Linked DNA regions of Homo sapiens: region 2 is linked to region 1. The links come from fine-mapping of genetic effects on gene expression. A gene starts in region 1. The other region holds a variant in brackets. All regions are shown on one strand. Distances are between the middles of the regions. Region 1 holds the start of ZNF195 (zinc finger protein 195). Region 2 has its middle 34 kb from the start of ZNF195.

The links. PIP is the estimated chance that this variant, and not a neighbour inherited with it, causes the effect.
Region 2: its variant is fine-mapped to the expression of ZNF195 in pancreas (GTEx, PIP 0.97).

The regions. Positions count from the first base shown.
Region 1 is chr11:3,373,972-3,382,792 of GRCh38, forward strand. ZNF195 (zinc finger protein 195) reads right to left here and starts at 5,175. Exons shown (of 6, transcript NM_001130520.3): 1 at 5,067-5,175. The coding sequence starts at 5,069. It also overlaps the pseudogene TSSC2. RefSeq lists enhancers at 4,876-5,439, 5,128-5,422 and a silencer at 4,881-4,950.
Region 2 is chr11:3,409,009-3,417,829 of GRCh38, forward strand. It overlaps the pseudogene TSSC2 and the pseudogene FAM86GP. Among named protein-coding and RNA genes, the nearest start is that of ZNF195, 34 kb to the left of the region's middle. RefSeq lists enhancers at 278-778, 779-1,279. The variant A/T (reference allele first, on the strand shown) is at 4,748.

The DNA of each region.
Region 1 (8,821 bases):
AACTCGTACAAATGCATCTGAAACCCCCCATCACTGATTCTGGCCACACCTTAGAATCCCATGATGCATGTGACTTAAACAGCACTGGTGCTTCCACCCAAACCAATAGGCAGAATCTGTGAGGGCAAAGGTGAGGGCCTTTTTTTGAGTTGTCCATGTGATTTAATTAGAAGCCAGGCTGAGAACCATTTAGCTAAGCCTTGCTTCTCAAGCTTCAATGTGCATATGAATCTTTTGGTAATTTTGGCCCCACTCTAAGTCATGTGATTCTGAAGATTTCAAAGGGGTTCATGGGTTGGATTTTTTAACAGTTCTGCCATTAATGGTGATGCTGCTCCCCCAAGACTTGTGATCATTAACACTCAGCTAAAGAAAGCAGCCCCAGCACAGTCCCTTACACCCAACCCTCTGACCACAACATAAGTTCTTCTGGTGCAAATGGAGACAGCCAATCTCTATTCTGAAAGATTACATTATTTCCTGGCTCTTTAAAGTTTTCCAGGGCTGGAGAAGGAAGCAATGTCTGAGTCTGTCTGCATTTGGAAAACAATGTGTACACACGTATGAATGCAGTGTTTATTAAGCAGGCACGGGGTGCTCGGATGTATGTGACAGCACTGTGCTGGGCACCTCACGTCATGTGAGTTAATCCTCACCACACCCTGGGTGATGGAACCAAGTGTCCTGCAACTCTCAAGATATAGATGAAGGGACCAGGCTTTGTGGTTCCTCTTCTATTTTCCTATCATTAACGTTTTAAAAGTGTAGTGATAAAAGCTCCAGATAGACCAATGGAAGGGATACAGAGGGGATGAAGTGTAGTGCAAAGGCACTTTCCATTGTTGTGTTTATCTTCACTTTCTTGTGGCTTGTGAAGCAACTATTAGACCCACAGGACTGAGAAAGAGCTTGCTGGATACGATGTCTCTAACAGCGCTGGTGTTAGTAAAAAAGAAAAATTAAGGCTCCAAAATAGAGAGTCCTTTGATCCCATTTATCTGCTTTGGGGTTTCCGAAAATTCTGTGTATCAGTTCCGGAGAGGCAGCAGGAGTCAAACTCTGATTTAACTCTGTAGTTAAACTCCAAACTGATTTAACTCTGTAGCTAAACCCAAAACTCTGATTTAATTCTGTAGTTAACTCTGTCGGAGGAGAGTCCAGGGTGAAGCCAGACCTGGATGAGACTCAGAGAAGGAGAGTCTGGGCATGTCTGGGCAGGGAGAGGGCCCTACGCAGGATTCTGCTCTCTATGCTACTAGAGTATTTACAATTCTGTTTTTCCTAAAACTGCCCCCCACCCCAAAATTTAAATCCCAGGGTTTGTATAATTTTAATCTATTTTGGCCACTTCCTTGTCTATTTTATAACATAAAATAACAAGCAATTTAACCGAAACCTTTAGGATTTTCTAGGACAGATATGGTAGAAGCTAAATATTTATTTTTAGCCGGGCAAAAGCAACAGAAATAATACCACCACCACCTTGTCTGTCTGAATATCCCTTCAATATGACATCAGAACTCACAACAACCACATCAGGAAAATGGCCCAAATGAAGCAGAAGTCCCTTTGACCACTCCCTTCTTCATGCTGACCCCAAGACGCTGAATTCAATGATTTATCCAGTTACTGGAAATGGAAAAGTTTCTGGCTTGCGGGGACCATGGCTGCCTTCTCTGTTTTCCTAATGGCTACACAGGATGGAATCAATTAGTTTATCAGTTTGAATCTCCAGATCTCATTTTTGTTTTTTACTGAAGTACCAGAAAAACTGGAGTAATTCCCATGTGGATACCAATGAGGTTTCTTCTCTGAGGGGAGGAACAAACCCTGGGTGACTCATTTCTCTTATTCTACAACAGAAGCACAGATAGACCGTTTTGTCAGCCTGAGCCCCGTCTGCACAGTGCACTCCTGAATGTCCAAAAGACTCCAGGTGCTGGTGAGAGAGTTCCTGGTGACCCTGCACAGATGCCCTCTATGGCCATGAGATCCATGATAGTTGCTACCTTCTCCCTGTTGCAATCCTCCTTTAGAGTTCAATAACTTCCTATCTAAAGCTAAATTTATTTTATTTGACGAAGTCTAGAAACAGCCCCAGGATAATAACGATTCCATACCCAGGAAGTCCTCCCCAGCTTCCTTCCATCCCAACTCTAACTGCATCTGCCTGTGGGTCCCCAGTGCTCCCGGGCTCTGCAGCTTCTCTCTGTAGAAAGGCTCCTTCCATGGTTGCTGTGAGCAGTCTGGCGCACCCGCAGGGGAGGCTCCTTGGGAAGCACTAGCTAGGCCAGGGGTGTCCGATCTTGGCTTCCCTGGGCCACACATAAAATACACTAACACTAACGATAGCTGATAACTGAAAAAAAAAAAAAATCACAAAAAAGTCTCATAATGTTTTAATAAAGTTTACGAATTTGTGTTGGACCACATTCAAAGCCCAGGCCAGCATGTGGCCCAGGCCTGTGGGTTGGACAAGCTTGAGCCAGGCCTTCGATTGCTTTCTTTTGCAGACTCAGTATTAGCCTTAGCTTGGAATGACTGTTCTTGGGCTTCAACTTCCCAATCAGGGTTATCCACTTAGGTTTAAATAAGAAAATACCCAGTGTTGGAAACATCCAACAAAATCACTGAAACAGTTTACAGAAGAAAAGGAAACTGTAAGCACTTACACTTTCACCTCCACAGAAAAAGCAAAATTATTTATTGCTTTCAGACAATGAACTTGTCATTTAACTATTTCCATAACAAATCATATAGTAAACAATCACATGTGAACACTTTTAGAAGTGCTAAGTTCCATCTCCTACAACTTAGCATTAAGCTCAGACATCTAGAGAACAGGATATAAAACAGAGATACTCATGACAACAAATTCATCCTGCAAAAAGAGCTCATGTTCTGATGAATCTATGCAATTTACCAAGTAATCTACCATAATTTTTTTGTAGAAAATGTAAACATTCTCCACAGCCATCCAAGAAGCATTTTATGTTCCCTGGTAGCATTCCCAAAGCTAAGCCCTGGGATTCTGTTGGAAATCATCTTCCACAAAAGAACAGACCTAAGTAACTTTCTACCCTTAATCACTCTGGAGAAGAAAAAGGTATGTATGACTAGATATTTAACTTTTTTCCTGAAATTGACCTATTTCATGTCCTTTGTAAGTATTTTCTTACCTTTCAAGCTCTACTGATAAAATGTAAATTTACAATTAAAAATCCAACATTGCAGTAAGTGAATAAATTATTTCAAGGAGACACAGAGAGTGGCAGTGCCGACTGGAACACAGACACAGCTAATGACTTGTGTCAAGTCAGGCTATTCTATTCCTTGGGAGATTCTCCCACCTCCATCCTGTTCACCGAAGTGCTCACCGGCCACCCCCGATGATACACTGCACTGTGCCCCGCTGAGTGTCCCAGGTGAATTTTGCTTTACAGGTTTTGCACCATCTCACGGGGTGGAGTTTTTCTTGCTCTTTGAAACATTCTGTCTCCCTTCACAAATCTGAGAGTCCAAAGGGCAGAAATGATTTCGGTCTTTTCCCTCTGACAGGGGCATGTGATTGGCTGATCAGCCATGTGTCTCCAGGGATTGAAAGTTGGGTTGGGTGAAGACAATCTTAATGTCCTAAGTGGTTACCTCTTTAGAGGAAGAGTAGACCAGGAGATTTCTCTCAGCCCAGGGCATCCAGCTGCTCCCTGGAGAGGCCACACTTCATACCTCAGGCTGTCCTCTGAGAAATAACCCAGGGCCTGAAATTCACTAGATGCTCCAGCAGACATGGCCATGGTGGGCATCCTGTGTTATCCCTGGACAATACTGAAACTGAGGAAAAAGTCCAGAGGGTGGCTGAGAGCAAATCACCCTGTCAAGTTTCCAAAGTGGAACCTCAAACCAAAGACATTCTGGTAAGGTGTCTGTGCCTAGGGAAAATAAAAAGGAGGAGAGGCACAAAGACTTTTTACAATAGCGTCAGGGGATGATTCTCTGCTTTCCTGTCACGTGGAATGATTACAAACAGAAAACAAATCTCTTAAAAAGTGCCGTCCAGGCTGGGCGCAGTGGCTCACGACTGTAATCCCAGCACTTTGGGAGGCCAAGGCAGGCGGATCACATGAGGTCAGGAGTTCAAGACCAGCCTGGCCAACATGGTGAAACCCCGTCTCTACTAAAAATACAAAAATTAGCCGGGCGTGGTGGTGCAGGACTGTAATCTCAGCTACTCGGGAGGCTGAGGCAGGAGAATTGATTGAACCCGGGAGGCAGAGGTTGCAGTGAGCCGAGATCGCGCCACTGCACTCCAGCCTGGGGGACAGAGCGAGACTCCATCTCAAAAATAATAATAATTAAATAGCAGGCAATCCGACTGAGGTGGCTCTAGTGCCCTGGGTTCTTAGGTTAAAAAAAAAAATCTAACTCAGATGCGTTTCTTGCAAATGACTATCTTGCAGAAACAAAATTCAGGCTTCGTCAACCACAAACCTCTAATTAACTTCTGATTACAGGACCAGAAAATTTCAGCCTAGATAGCTGAAATCAGGAGATGACGTAACTGTACCGAACTAATGAATGAATGTGGTTTGCTTCCTCATGCACCTGATAAAAGCCTTTCCTTCAAGGCCGGCTGGTGGGACCTCCAAACCCAAAAAACATGGTTGGGTCCTCTGCCATTCATGAATCGCTCTTTGCTCAAATAAAACTCTTTCACATTTTTGCAAGGACTCCCTCGAGAGAAAGGAGGGACTGGGGCCCCCACGGGCTACAGATCATCCTCTTATGCACAAACCACCCACGGAGTCGGGATTCTCCCTTCCTGACTCGGGGAGACGAGGGTCTGCGGGCGAAGAGCTGCCGGGGGGACATGGCTCTGGGCTTGGGCCAAAGCCGCTCTGCAGGGATGCGCCGGGGCGCGCGGGGCCCGGCCGCCATGGTGCAGCTGGAGGGGCCTCGGGTCCGCGGAGCCCGGAACCCACCCGGGCAGCCCGGTTCCTCCCGAGCCGGTACCGCGGGTTCCAGTCCGCCCCTCCCTGTCTCTCAGGAGGCCTGGCCCCTACACTCACCATCTCCTGGCCTCCAGAGAGCCTGGCGTTTCACTTCTGGATCTCCCGGTGCCTGCGGGTCACACGACCTACGGCTAGCAGGGGACACAGAGCCGCGGGGACAGGAAGTGGAGCTCTGTCGGGACAAAGGCCCCGCTAGATCCCGGAAGCCGTCCTCTCCTCTCCAGACATGTGCCTGATTGGACAGTCCCCGCCCCTACTCCTCTGATTGGATAGGGCATCACGCCCCGCCCCCTCAGGCCCTGAGTGACAGGAGCTGTAATCAGACAATGGGCCGAATGAGACAGCAAGGACAGGTGCTGGCCGCGATCTTTTGGAGCGGGGCTTCCTGCCTGCGCTGTCCGGCCCCACCTAGAGGATATTTACATTTCATCTTGTGACTGCGGTTATGTTTATTTATAAATAATAAATATATGTTATTCACCAATGGAAAGAAGAAAATAAAGACAATCATTTTGAATTTTTATATTTTATGGCCTTCCTGGCTTTTGGTCCTTTGAACAGACAGCCTGAAATTTCAAAAAGGATTCAAGCCTCTAAGAATTAAAATGTAAGCCATGTGTGAATCTTAAATTTTCTAGTAGCCACGTTTTAAAATGTACTAAGAAACAGGTGAAGTTGATTGTAATAATTTAACCCAGTATGTAACCATTTTCCTCTATGGTCAATATACAATTGGTAAGGAAGTATATATTTTGGGGTACTAAATCTTTGAAGCTCACTCTGTATTTTACCTTTTCAGCACATTTCAGTTCAGACCAGCTGTATTCCTGTTATTCAATAGCCACACATGATCAATAGCTGCCACACTAAAGTGCAGCTCTGAGGTCTAACCTCCCTTATGTCAGGAAGTGGAGGGTCTGAAAGTCCCTTTTCAGCCAGAGGTGAGGGAACAGCCTCTTGCTACAAACATCTCTCCTCCGGTCGAAGGGTGGACGAGATGGTGATCCTAGAGAGCATAGGGGAAAGCAAAAGAAAATATCCACGGGTAGAGGACTGCTGCCCATCAATAATGGGGCCCTAAGAGGAGAGAACACATCTTCAGATCTGTCCATAGCCTTGACCTCCAACATTTAGATATGGAGGAAATAGACTAGAGGCAGACTTATCTTGCTATTTGGCCTTAGCCCTAATGATCAAGCTGTGATTGTCTGTTTCTTCCCGTGGTTGGGGGGCTGTGTGAGTAAAAGCACCAATCACATATATACATGTGTACATGCATTTCTGTATGACGGAACATTATCTTACAAAAGATCCAACTTTAAATAAGGGGGGAGAATTAGTACCTATAAAGTGCTTTCTTCTTGCAGGTAACTAGGAATCAACCTTTCATTGAATCCTGGCACCCTATCTGCCCTGGGTGCATGTATTAGTTAGCTATTGCATAACAAATCACCGAAAACTTAATAGCTCATGATTGAGTTCATCAGCCATTCACGCTGAACTCAACTGAGCTATTCTTGTCACAACTGGACTGCTTCATGTATGTATGGCCAGCTGCTGGTTGACTAGGTGGCTCTGCTTCTGGGGATGAGATGGCTATCAACAGTGGCACCTTCCTTCTCCCCACCATGGTATGTCATCCTCCAGCTGGCTAATCTCATAAAGATAGCAAGGTTCTGATAGCTTGATCTCATAAAGATAGCAAGGTTCTGAGAAACACAGAAGCATTTAAGACCTTTTGAGCCTAGGCCCAAAACTAGCACAAAAGCTGTCATATTCGCAGTTGATACGGTCTGGCTGTGTCCCCAGCCAAATCTCAACTTGAATTGTATCTCCCAGAATTCCCGTGTGTTGTGGGAGGGACCGGGGAAGGGGGTAATTGAGTCATGTGGGCGGGTCTTTCTCATGCTATTCTCATGTTAGTGAATAAGTCTCACGAGATCTGATGGGTTTATCAGGGGTTTCCACTTTTGCTTTCTCCTCATTTTTCTCTTGCCGCCACCACGAAAGAAGTGCCTTTTGCCTCCCGTCATGATTCTGAGGCCTCCCCAGCCATGTGGAACTGTAAGTCCAATTAAACCTCTTTTTGTTCGCATGTTCAGGAATGTCTTTATCAGCAGTGTGAAAACAAACTAATACAACAGTTTTCTATAGCCAGAGAAAATAGTGCCAGCCAGATGCAAAGTTTGGGAAACACATTCGGCCTCTTGATGGGAGGAGCTGTAAGAGCACACAATAAAGAGCATAGATACAGAGAGTAATGAAGCATTGCTGCTGTTTCTGCAATCAGTATTATTCTACCCTTTCTTGCAGAAGAGGTTTATATTACTGCTCCAAGTCAAGAACCTTGCCCAAAGTCCCACAGCTGCTAAGCAGCTGGGCTGGTACTCAGGATCAGCTCTGCCTGGCTCTGCAGCCCTTACTCCTGCATAGACTGCACTGCTCATACAGCTTTCCAAGGCCTGCAAGTTTCTGGAGAGTAACTCTTCTGCAATAGAGGCAGAATTCCTTTTAGATTTGGACCCATATGGTGCTGTTTACCATTGGGAATAATCAATCACCTCGAGAAATTGCAGAAGCTTCTTGGAAGGACATGGAATAATTTGAGGGAAATGGCTGATAGATGACTTTAGGAAATCAGAGCCCAACAACAGAGGAGCAATTTTAAAACAGAATGTATCCTATATGTCTGTAAATGCTTTCATTCCTTTTTGGTATTTGTAGGCTGTTCATAATTTTCAACACTGACTATAAGTACTGTGACTGAAACAACCTCTTACTCTGAAATCAAGTGACTTAAAGATACATCTGCTGAGAAGACTTTTTTTCTGCAGCAATTTATCCGAACAGCTAAGTACATCTTGGAGGTGTCCGTTGATTTTTAATAAGGAAGAGCTATTTTTCAAGCTCCTATGTGGCAAATCCCATCAGTATGCATGGAAACCAGCTACAGTGAATGCATTCTTTACCCTGAATCAATTGTTCTCACCCCTGCTACATGTAAAATCACCTGGGGGGATGGCATTTAGAATTTCCCAAACCCAAGCTGCCACCGACCAGTAAAATGAGAATCACTGGAGTGGGGCCTGGGCAACATTGTGGCTTAAAGGTCTCCGGGGGATTAGAGTGTGGGCCAGACCCCAAACCACTGCTTTTTTTTTTTTTTTTTTTACTTTTACGTTCAGGGACACAGGTGCAGATTTGTTATATTGGTAAACTCACATCATGGGGGTTTGTTGTACAGATTATTTCATACCCAGGTATTTGTTTTCTGCTATATCCCCAAGACCATGAATCATATCTGGCACATAATAAGCATTTCCTAATATTTGTTCAAAAAGGATTTGGCAGTCTTGGGGGGCAGAAGGGGGGGTGGGGAAAATTTTTAAATAACACAATTTTTTTAAAAGGCACAATGTTCTACAACGTCAAATTCTCTTGTATATTCAGGAAAGTTGAGGGTTTTTTCTAAAACATGCTGACATAATGGGAAATAAGATGCAAAATTTGCATGAATGTTTAAGACAAAGTCTGAGGTTTCCAAGAGATGTTGTGCTGGGGAGGCTGTGTGCTACAAGCTCGCAAAGCTCTGGGAGGACAAAGCATTCATCCTCCCTAGCAGAGGCCGTGAGGTGAGAAGCTCGGTGGAGCCCCCAAGCTTTGGACTTTTAATATAGAGTGTTCAGGTCCTTATAGTTAGGGCTCATGGCACAAGCAGGTCACAGGTCTCTGGCTCCTCTGACCTTTACCCTCCTTCCCAAGGGAAAATGTGACTCTCCAAAGCAAGAAACTTGAGGGCGTGGTTCACCCCA
Region 2 (8,821 bases), 35 kb after region 1:
GGAGGCTCGGAAACACTTCCTCTCTTCTTCTGTTCTTCACGCCCCATGCCCCTGCTAGCGTATTACTGTTCTGTGACTTCCCTGTGACCTCTGCAGTACTCCTCATCCTGCGTTTGGTCTCCAGGTGTCACCTTTCTGCCGTGTTCCTAACATTTTGATTCCTGTCTTGAAAAAAGCACCTGCTGCACCATAAGCCCAGGGATGTGGCAGCTGCAGCGGGCTTGGCTTTGTGAAGAACCGAGTGTGTCCAGGGATGTGGCAGCTGCAGCGGGCTTGGCTTTGTGAAGAACCGAGTGTGTCCAGGGATGTGGCAGCTGCAGTGGGCTTGGCTTTGTGAGGAATCGAGTGTGTCCACCGATGTGGCAGCTGCAGCGGGCTTGGCTTTGTGAAGAACCGAGTGTGTCCACCGATGTGACAGCTGCAGCGGGCTTGGCTTTGTGAAGAACCGAGTGTGTCCACCGATGTGGCAGCTGCAGCGGGCTTGGCTTTGTGAGGAACCGAGTGTGTCCAGGGATGTGGCAGCTGCAGCGGGCTTGGCTTTGTGAGGAACCGAGTGTGTCCAGGGATGTGGCAGCTGCAGCGGGCTTGGCTTTGTGAAGAACCGAGTGTGTCCAGGGATGTGGCAGCTGCAGCGGGCTTGGCTTTGTGAAGAACCGAGTGTGTCCAGGGATGTGGCAGCTGCAGTGGGCTTGGCTTTGTGAGGAATCGAGTGTGTCCACCGATGTGGCAGCTGCAGCGGGCTTGGCTTTGTGAAGAACCGAGTGTGTCCACCGATGTGGCAGCTGCAGCGGGCTTGGCTTTGTGAGGAACCGAGTGTGTCCAGGGATGTGGCAGCTGCAGTGGGCTTGGCTTTGTGAGGAACCGAGTGTGTCCAGGGATGTGGCAGCTGCAGCGGGCTTGGCTTTGTGAGGAACCGAGTGTGTCCACCGATGTGGCAGCTGCAGCGGGCTTGGCTTTGTGAGGAACCGAGTGTGTCCACAGATGTGGCAGCTGCAGCGGGCTTGGCTTTGTGAGGAACCGAGTGTGTCCACGTTGGGGGGAACATCATACTTGATACACACGTTTTTATTTGCACAAAGAAAATGCTATTTTTGGAGCCAGAGTTTTCATGTCTGATTGATGGCGATTTTCTTAAGAACCAGAACTGCTGGCAGAAAGGGAGCACCCACAAGCTTAGATAGCCGATGTCTTATCAGAGGGCAGTTTGTGGTTCCTGATTTGGAAATTAACATTCTCCAAACATTCCAGTCCAATGAAAGTTTTATCCGCTTTCCCATATAAAAACTCTTCCCACGAGAGTGACTTGATTCTCACAATCCCGTTGGAGTCGTGTGTGAGTCCTACAGTGTGAGGTTCAGCATTGCCATCTCCAAGTGCTCTTCGTAGGGAAACAGTTTCTGGTCATGACGAGGTTCCACTTCCCATCTGATCCCGGCCCGGCCTGGAAACAGAGGACATGTGTTTGAAGATGGCAGTGTTTGGGGACAGGACATGAGCGTATTGTGTGGGGCTGCTAGGACAGGCCTGGCGGGGTGGGGGCGTGTACAAGTCAGTTTACTTGGTTCACAGGTTCTCAGGCCCACCCAGGTGCCTAGAATTGGCCTCCAGGATGGGACCAGAAATCTGGTTTTGCATAGAAATGGCTAGCAGCAGGCACCGTGCCGCTGTCCAGTCTCTGCCCGCGTCTGCCCAGCACTTGGCACAGCGGGACAGACGCAGAGATCTGAACCCACACTTACCTGGCTGCTCAGTCAACTCACTCTTCACAAAGCTTAGAAAGCGGCCAGGCACAGTGGTTCACGCCTGTAATCCCAACACTTTGGGAGGCCGGCCAAGGCGGGTGGATCACTTGAGATCAGGAGTTCGAGACCAGCCTGGCCAACATGGTGAAACCCCATCTCTACAAAAATACAAAAATTAGGCAGGCACAATGGCGGGTGCCTGTAATCCCAGCTACTTGGGAGGCTGAGGCAGGAGAATTGCTTGAACCCAGGAGGCAGAGGTTGCAGTGAGCAGAGATTGCGCCACTGCACTCGAGCCTGAGTGACAGAGTGAGACTCCATCTCAAAAAAAAAAAACAAAATCACACACACACACACACACACACACACACACACACACACACAGCTTAGAAGGGGCTGGTGTTCTCATAAGCACAGATGTCTGAAGAGCCGTTAGCCAGAATGATTCTTTTCTTTTTTTTTTTTTTTTTGAGATACGATCTTGTTCTGTCACTCAGGCTGGAGTGCAGTGGCACAGTCATTGCTCACTACAGCCTCGACTCCTGGGCTCTAGCAATCCTCCCACTTCCTGAGTAGCTGGGATGACAGGTGCATGCCACCATGCTAGTAATTTTTTTATTTTGTAGAGATGGGGTCCTGAATGCATGGCCTCAAGTGATGCTCCTGCCTCAGACTCTTTTATTATTTTTTTTTTAGACAGAGTTTTACTCTGTTCCCAAGGCTGGAGTGCAGTGGTGCAATCTCAGCTCACTGCAATGCATCCCAGGTTCAAGTGATTCTCCTGCCTCAGTCTCCCGAGTAGCTGGGATTATAGGCGTGCACCGCCACGCGTGGCTAATTTTTGTGTTTTTAGTAGAGATGGGGTTTCACCGTGTTGGCCAGGCTGGTCTTGAACTCTTGACCTCAAGTGATCCGCTCACCTCAGCCTCCCAAATCCTCTGCCTCTTACAGTGTTGGGATTACAGGCGTGAGACACTGTGACACGGGATGATTTTCAATCACAGTTTTTTGTTACGAGTGGAAAATGTGTATTTATAAAAATAAAGTAGTACAGACATGAACGTGTAGAAGTCTCTATAATCCTGCCATCCAAGGATGGCACCTGTTAATGTGTATATCAGGGATGTCCAATCTTTTGGCCTCCCTGCACCACATTGGAAGAAGAAGAATCGCCTTGGGCCACACATAAAATACACTAATGCTCGCAATAGCTGATGAGCTAAAAGAAAAAAAAATCACAAAAAAACCTCGTACTGTTTTAAGAAAGTTTACAGATTTGTGTTGGGCCACAGATTGGACGAGCCTGCTACATATATATTCTAGGTTTTCCCCAATAGGTATACTTATGTGAAAATGATTATTGTGATACTTTTTTTTTGAGATGAAGTCTTGCTATGTTGCTCAAGGGGGCCACAAACTCCTGGGCTTAAGCCATCCTCCTGCCTCAGCCTCCTGAGTAGTTGGGAATATAGGTACTCATAAACATGTGTGGGTGATTATTATTATTTTTTAAACAAAAATGGGGCTGGGCGCAGTAGCTCACGCCTGTAATCCTAACACTTTGGGAGGCTGAGGCAGCAGATCGCTTGAGGTCAGGAGTTCAAGACCAGCCTGGCCAACATGGCGACACCTCGACTCTACAAAAAATACAAACATTAGCCAGGTGTGGTAGCACGCACCTGTAGTCCCAGCTACTCAGGAGGCTGAGATGGGAGGATAGCTTGAACCTGGGAGGTGGGAGGTTGCAGTGGGCCGTGGCACCACTGCACTCCAGCCTGGGCAATACAAAGCCAGACTGTCTCCAAAAAAAAAAAAAAAAAAAAAAAAAAAAAAGGTGGGTGGGGGCTTATACTATGTGTTCTGCTTGGCACTGTTTTTTTCACTTCAAAGATATTGCAGTTATTTTTTCACATAAGTATCTGAAGAAAGACTTCCTTTTTTTTTTTTTTTTTTTGCCTTTTTGAGACAGGGTCTTGCTCTGTTGCCCAGGCTAGAGTGCAGTGGTGAGATCAGGGCTCACTGCAGCCTCCACCTCCTGGGCTCAAGCTATCCTCCCACCTCAGCCTCCCGAGTAGCTGGGACTACAGGTGTGCGCAACCATGCCCGGCTAGTTTCTGAATGTTTTGTGGAGATGGGGTCCCACTATGTTGCCCAGGTTGGTCTTGAAATCGTGGTGTCAAGAAGTCCCCCTGCCTTAGCCTCCTAAAGTGCTGGGTTGACAGGCCTGAGCCCCGCGCCCGGCCAGCCTCCTGTGCGAGGTTGTGCAGGACTTTGTCGTGGAACCCAGTATGCCTTCGTGTGCTGGCTTGTTTGTTGGCTCTGTAGTTAACGCGCTGCCCCACGTGGACAGGCATTGGACCCACGTCTCTGTGTGCAGGCAGAGGCTGCTGCGCGTGCATCTGTGCACATGGCTGCCAGGAGGGGCTGTGCTCAGGGTGATCTGGGGCAAAGGCTGGTGGCAATGGGGGGCTTGGGTGTAGTGTGGAGGCACGAGAGCCAGGTGGCCGAGCTGCAGTCTGTGGGAGCTCAGGGGTTGCTTGGCCTCTGTGTGTCCTAGTGTCTTTGTCGGTGAGATGGGACAATGATAGCACACTCTCACAGGTGCTGGGGGCTGACAAATGTCAGGTCTGAGGACAGTGGCTGGCCCACTACGGGGACAATTCCCCTTCTCTATAGTCACCCTGCTCGTCTTCCATCAACTGGGTGCTCAGGACAGTGGCGTGGTGGATCCGCCTGTACAGCCTGTGCTCCAGCGTCCTGCAGGCCACAGCTGTGTCCAGCCCTGACCCCGACTGCCCCTCCCACCACCTCCATTTTATAGATGAGGAAACCGACGCCCAAGGGCTTAGGGAACCCTGCTCTGAAGCACACAGTAGGGCTGCTGGGCTCAGATCCTCCCTCCCTGTGCTGAGCTGCCCTCCTCCTGCCGCAAGCTCCCACGCCCCAGGCCCACCCTGCTCACCGGCCTCTGCCCTAGTTCCCCGCATGGTGTGGGAGTGTGGGGC[A/T]TCCTAGCTTTTCCTCGGCCCCCAGTTCTTTCACTTCCACTGGAGTCCCGCAGGGACAGCTCGGGGACCATGCAGGCCCGGGTGGGCGTGTGGGCTCACATAGCTCGGTGGTGAACAGCTGGCACGTCTCTGGGTTGCGGACGATAAGGGCCACGTAGACTTGAGGAGCCCGCTGGTGCTCCCGGTAGGCAGCCAGCCTCCGCAGGACCGCGACCAGCGACACGATGGATTCTGGGCAATACAGCACGTCTACGGTGAAAGCTTCAGGTTACTGAAAGGGACCAGCGGACAGTTCCAGGTCATGCTGACCTCAGCAGCAGGGCGAGGCCAGAGAGGCAGCAGTCATATGAGACTAGTAGATGCCATTTGACCATTTGGGCCATTAGATGGAAAGGCAATTGCTTGGGTGAAAAAGGAGAACCCTTAGTAGAGAAAGCTGCAAAAGACCGAAGCAAAAGAAAAAAATCTCCAGACTCACTGGTGTTCCTTAAAAAATGAGCTCTGGTTCTCGGCCTATCTAGAGGGCTGTGAATGACACAAAGCCTGACCCTGCCATGAACTTCGTGTTTCAGGTGTCTGCCGATTTGTCTGCTGGCTTGCAGGGGTGGGCCTGTGTCCCTGGCCACCGCTGGACCTGTGGGTTTCAGGGCTGGGACCCAGGACCACAGGCAGAGCTCTGTTCAACCAGAGAGGAGACCGAGTGTGCTGGCAGGGGCGAGGGGTTTTCGGTGGCCCAGCCAAACACCACCTTCTCTCAAGGGCCCTGTCCTCATCCCAGAAGTGGTTGTTTTCCTCCTGTGGTCTCTGAAAGACAGAGGCATGGCTCTGGGACAGAGCCATGTGGTGATGACTGTAATGGGAGTATGCCTGTCTCCAACAAGAGGGCTGTGGCTGGAAGGTCACCTTAAGAGGCACCCCTGTCCTTTGATGTCACCCTGGAGGCCCAGAGTAACTCTTCTGGAAGCCCCATCATGTCCATGCCCGACAGCGTCCATTGTTCCCTTTTCCCAGAGCCCAGAGCTGGGTAGAGCTGCAAGGACACCGCCTGCACAGAGTGCCCGGGGCTGGGCATTGCCTGCTGCAATGACAACATCTGGCTGGATGGCAGAGAGCTGATGGACCGTCGCGACGTCCCAGTCCAGCTGGGCCACTGTCACCCTGGGGCTGTCTAAGTTGGCAGAGATGTCTGCCTCTAATGAGAGGCCATTGAGAAGGACATTCCCTCGGAGCTTCTCGAGGACCTGGCTGTGACAGTCGCTGAAGATGTATGCCTGGAGGCGGCACATCTTGCAGATGGCCAGGCCTGTGAGGCTGGCGCCACTGCCAAGCTCTAGGACAGTCCTGGCGGGAGGAAAGGGGACCATGTCTGTAACTGCACCAGGGTGAGCCTGCCTCGGTGTCCTGCCGTGCGCCCCGAGGTCACCTATGAGAGAAGGCTGCCGGGTTCTCGATGGCCCATTCTGCCAGGTAGAGGGCAGCATCTCATGTGACCAGGCCTGTGATGCCATGGGAGATGATGGCTGTGCTCTCGGAGAGTGTGACTGAGCCTCCCGAGGGCTGCACCAAGAGAGGGCGAGAGAGTCAGTCCAGCAATCAGAAGGCAAGTGGCTTAGAAGACAAGTAGCCATCCACCACATGGCTGAATAAACCATGACAGGACCAATCGCCACTCAGCAATGAGAAGCAGCTAACTGTTGACATGCCAACAGCTTGCACGGGCCTCAAGGGTGTCACGTGGCATGAAAGACACTCATCTCAGGCCACACAGGATTCCATTCATCGAACATTCCTGAGACAACGGAATTCTGGTGATGGAGCACAGGTCAGTGGTGGCCAGGGGCCAGGTGTGGCTATGAAGGGGTGGCTGCCTTGTGATGATTCAATATGCTATGTTTTTCCTTTGTGGTTTTCTGTATCTATGTTTTATCTTATTTTCTTTTGAGCTCTGTCACCCAGGCTGGAGTCAGTGGCACAATCTTGGCTCACTGCAACCTCTGCCTCCTGGGTTCAAGCAATTCTCCTGCCTCAGCTGCCCAAGTAGGTGCAACTACAGGCATGTGCCACCATGTGTGGCTAATTTTTCCACTTTTTTTTGAGACAGAGTTTCCCTCTCGTTGCCCAGGCAGGAGTGCAATGGCGTGATCTTGGCTCACTACAACCTCCACCTCCTGGGTTCAAGAGATTCTCCTGCCTCAGCCTCCCGAGTAGCTGGGATTAGAGGCACCTACTACCACACCCGCTAATTTTTGTATTTTTAGTAAAGACAGAGTTTCACCATGTTGGCCAGGCTGGTCTCAAACTCCTGACCTCAGGTCATCCACCTGCCTCAGCCTCCCAAAGTGCTGGGATTACAGGCATGAGCCACCACGCCCGGCCTGATTTTTGTATTTTTAGTAGAGACAGGGTTTCACCATATTGGCCAGGCTGCTCTTGAACTCCTGACCTCGGATCCACCCACCTCAGCCTCCCAAAGTGCTGGGATTACAGGTGTGAACCACCACACCAGGACCTGTCAAGTATTCTTTGAGGACTGGACACCAGGTCCTTGTGAAGCAGGTAGAGTGTGTCACCTATTGGACAAATGCCCAACAACCCCATGAGACATGCTGTTGTTGTTGAAGTGCTTGATTTACAGACAGGGAAACTGAGGCTAAAGAAGGTTGACGGACCTCATGTCTAAGACTGCAGAATGGGTGAGTCAGGATTTGAACCCACACCCACGTTTTCACTTTGTGCAGGAAGGGTATCTGGGCTGTGAGGGGGAGGAGGGTGCCCTTCTCATACCAGCAAATAGCTCGGGTGGCCCTGGGTGGACTCCTTGGCCATCAGGGTCTCTGCCAGGTCCTCGTACAGCTTGTCCAAAAGCTCTGTGTGGACAGCCTCGTGCTGGGGTCAGACAGAGTGAGAGCTTGTTTGCTTTCGTTCTAATCTGTAAAAATGGTCAGATGATTTTCACCAAGTTTGGAGGGGAGATTTGGGATGGAATGGTGTAATACCAGCCAGCTGGCATGTAAAATATTCACTTCATTGGGCATGGTGGTGTGTGCCGAATAGTCCCAGCTACTCTAGAGGCTGACATGGGAGGACTGCTTGAGCCCAGGAGTTCGAGGACAGCCTGGGCAAGAGACCTTGTCTCTAAAAAAAAAATTCACTTGGTAGGGAAACCTGGATGGGAGGGCCTTCAACGAGAGGTGTTGAGAGGGTAGGGTTAGGTGTAGTCTAGGGCAGGAGACAAGGATTCCGTGAGAGCTGCCACATGACCATGACAGAGAGGAGGAAAACAAAAGGTGCTTTTAAGTGAGCCCAGGCAGAACTGTGAGGGCGGCCCATGCTGCAGGCTGTGGCTGTCAGCAGGCTGCTTCTCCATGGCTGGCCCCATCTTAAGATTCACAGGGCAGCAACAATATACACTGGGTGACTGCTGCCCTCTCCTGGTGGCACAGGGCAGACCTGCTGGTGACCACAGATGCACCCTTTTGGGGAGGATTAGGGAGAAAGCAGGTATTGGAGAAGCAGGGGATTGTTTACTTGCTAAAAGTGTGGCCCTTTCACTAAGATAGGTCTGCTACTGCCTACTGAGGAATGGCCTCTCGACATCCTTATGTCAAACCCTGCACTTTCGGGCCCATCTTTAAAATCCATCCTAGGCCAGGTGCGGTGGCTCATGCCTGTAATCCCAGCACATTGGGAGGCCGAGGCAGGTGGATCACCTGAGGTCAGGAGTTCGAGATCAGCCTGGCCAACATGGTGAAACTCTGTCTCTACCAAAAATACAAAAATTAGCCAGGCATGGTGGCATGTGCCTGTAGTCCCAGCTTCTTAGGAGGCTAGGCACGAGAGTTGCTTGAACCCAGGAGGCAGAGGTTTCAGGGAGCCGAGACTGTGCCACGGTAATCCAGCCTGGGCAACACAGTGAGACTCTGTCTCAAAAAAATAAGTAAAAAATAAAATCCATCCTGCATCAGTCAGGAAAGAGCTCATTCCAGCAGGATCAATGCAGAGAATTCACCAGAGGAACTAGTTCCAAAGGTATGGCAAGAGCTAAACCTTCCAACAGGGGCCCATGGGGCAACC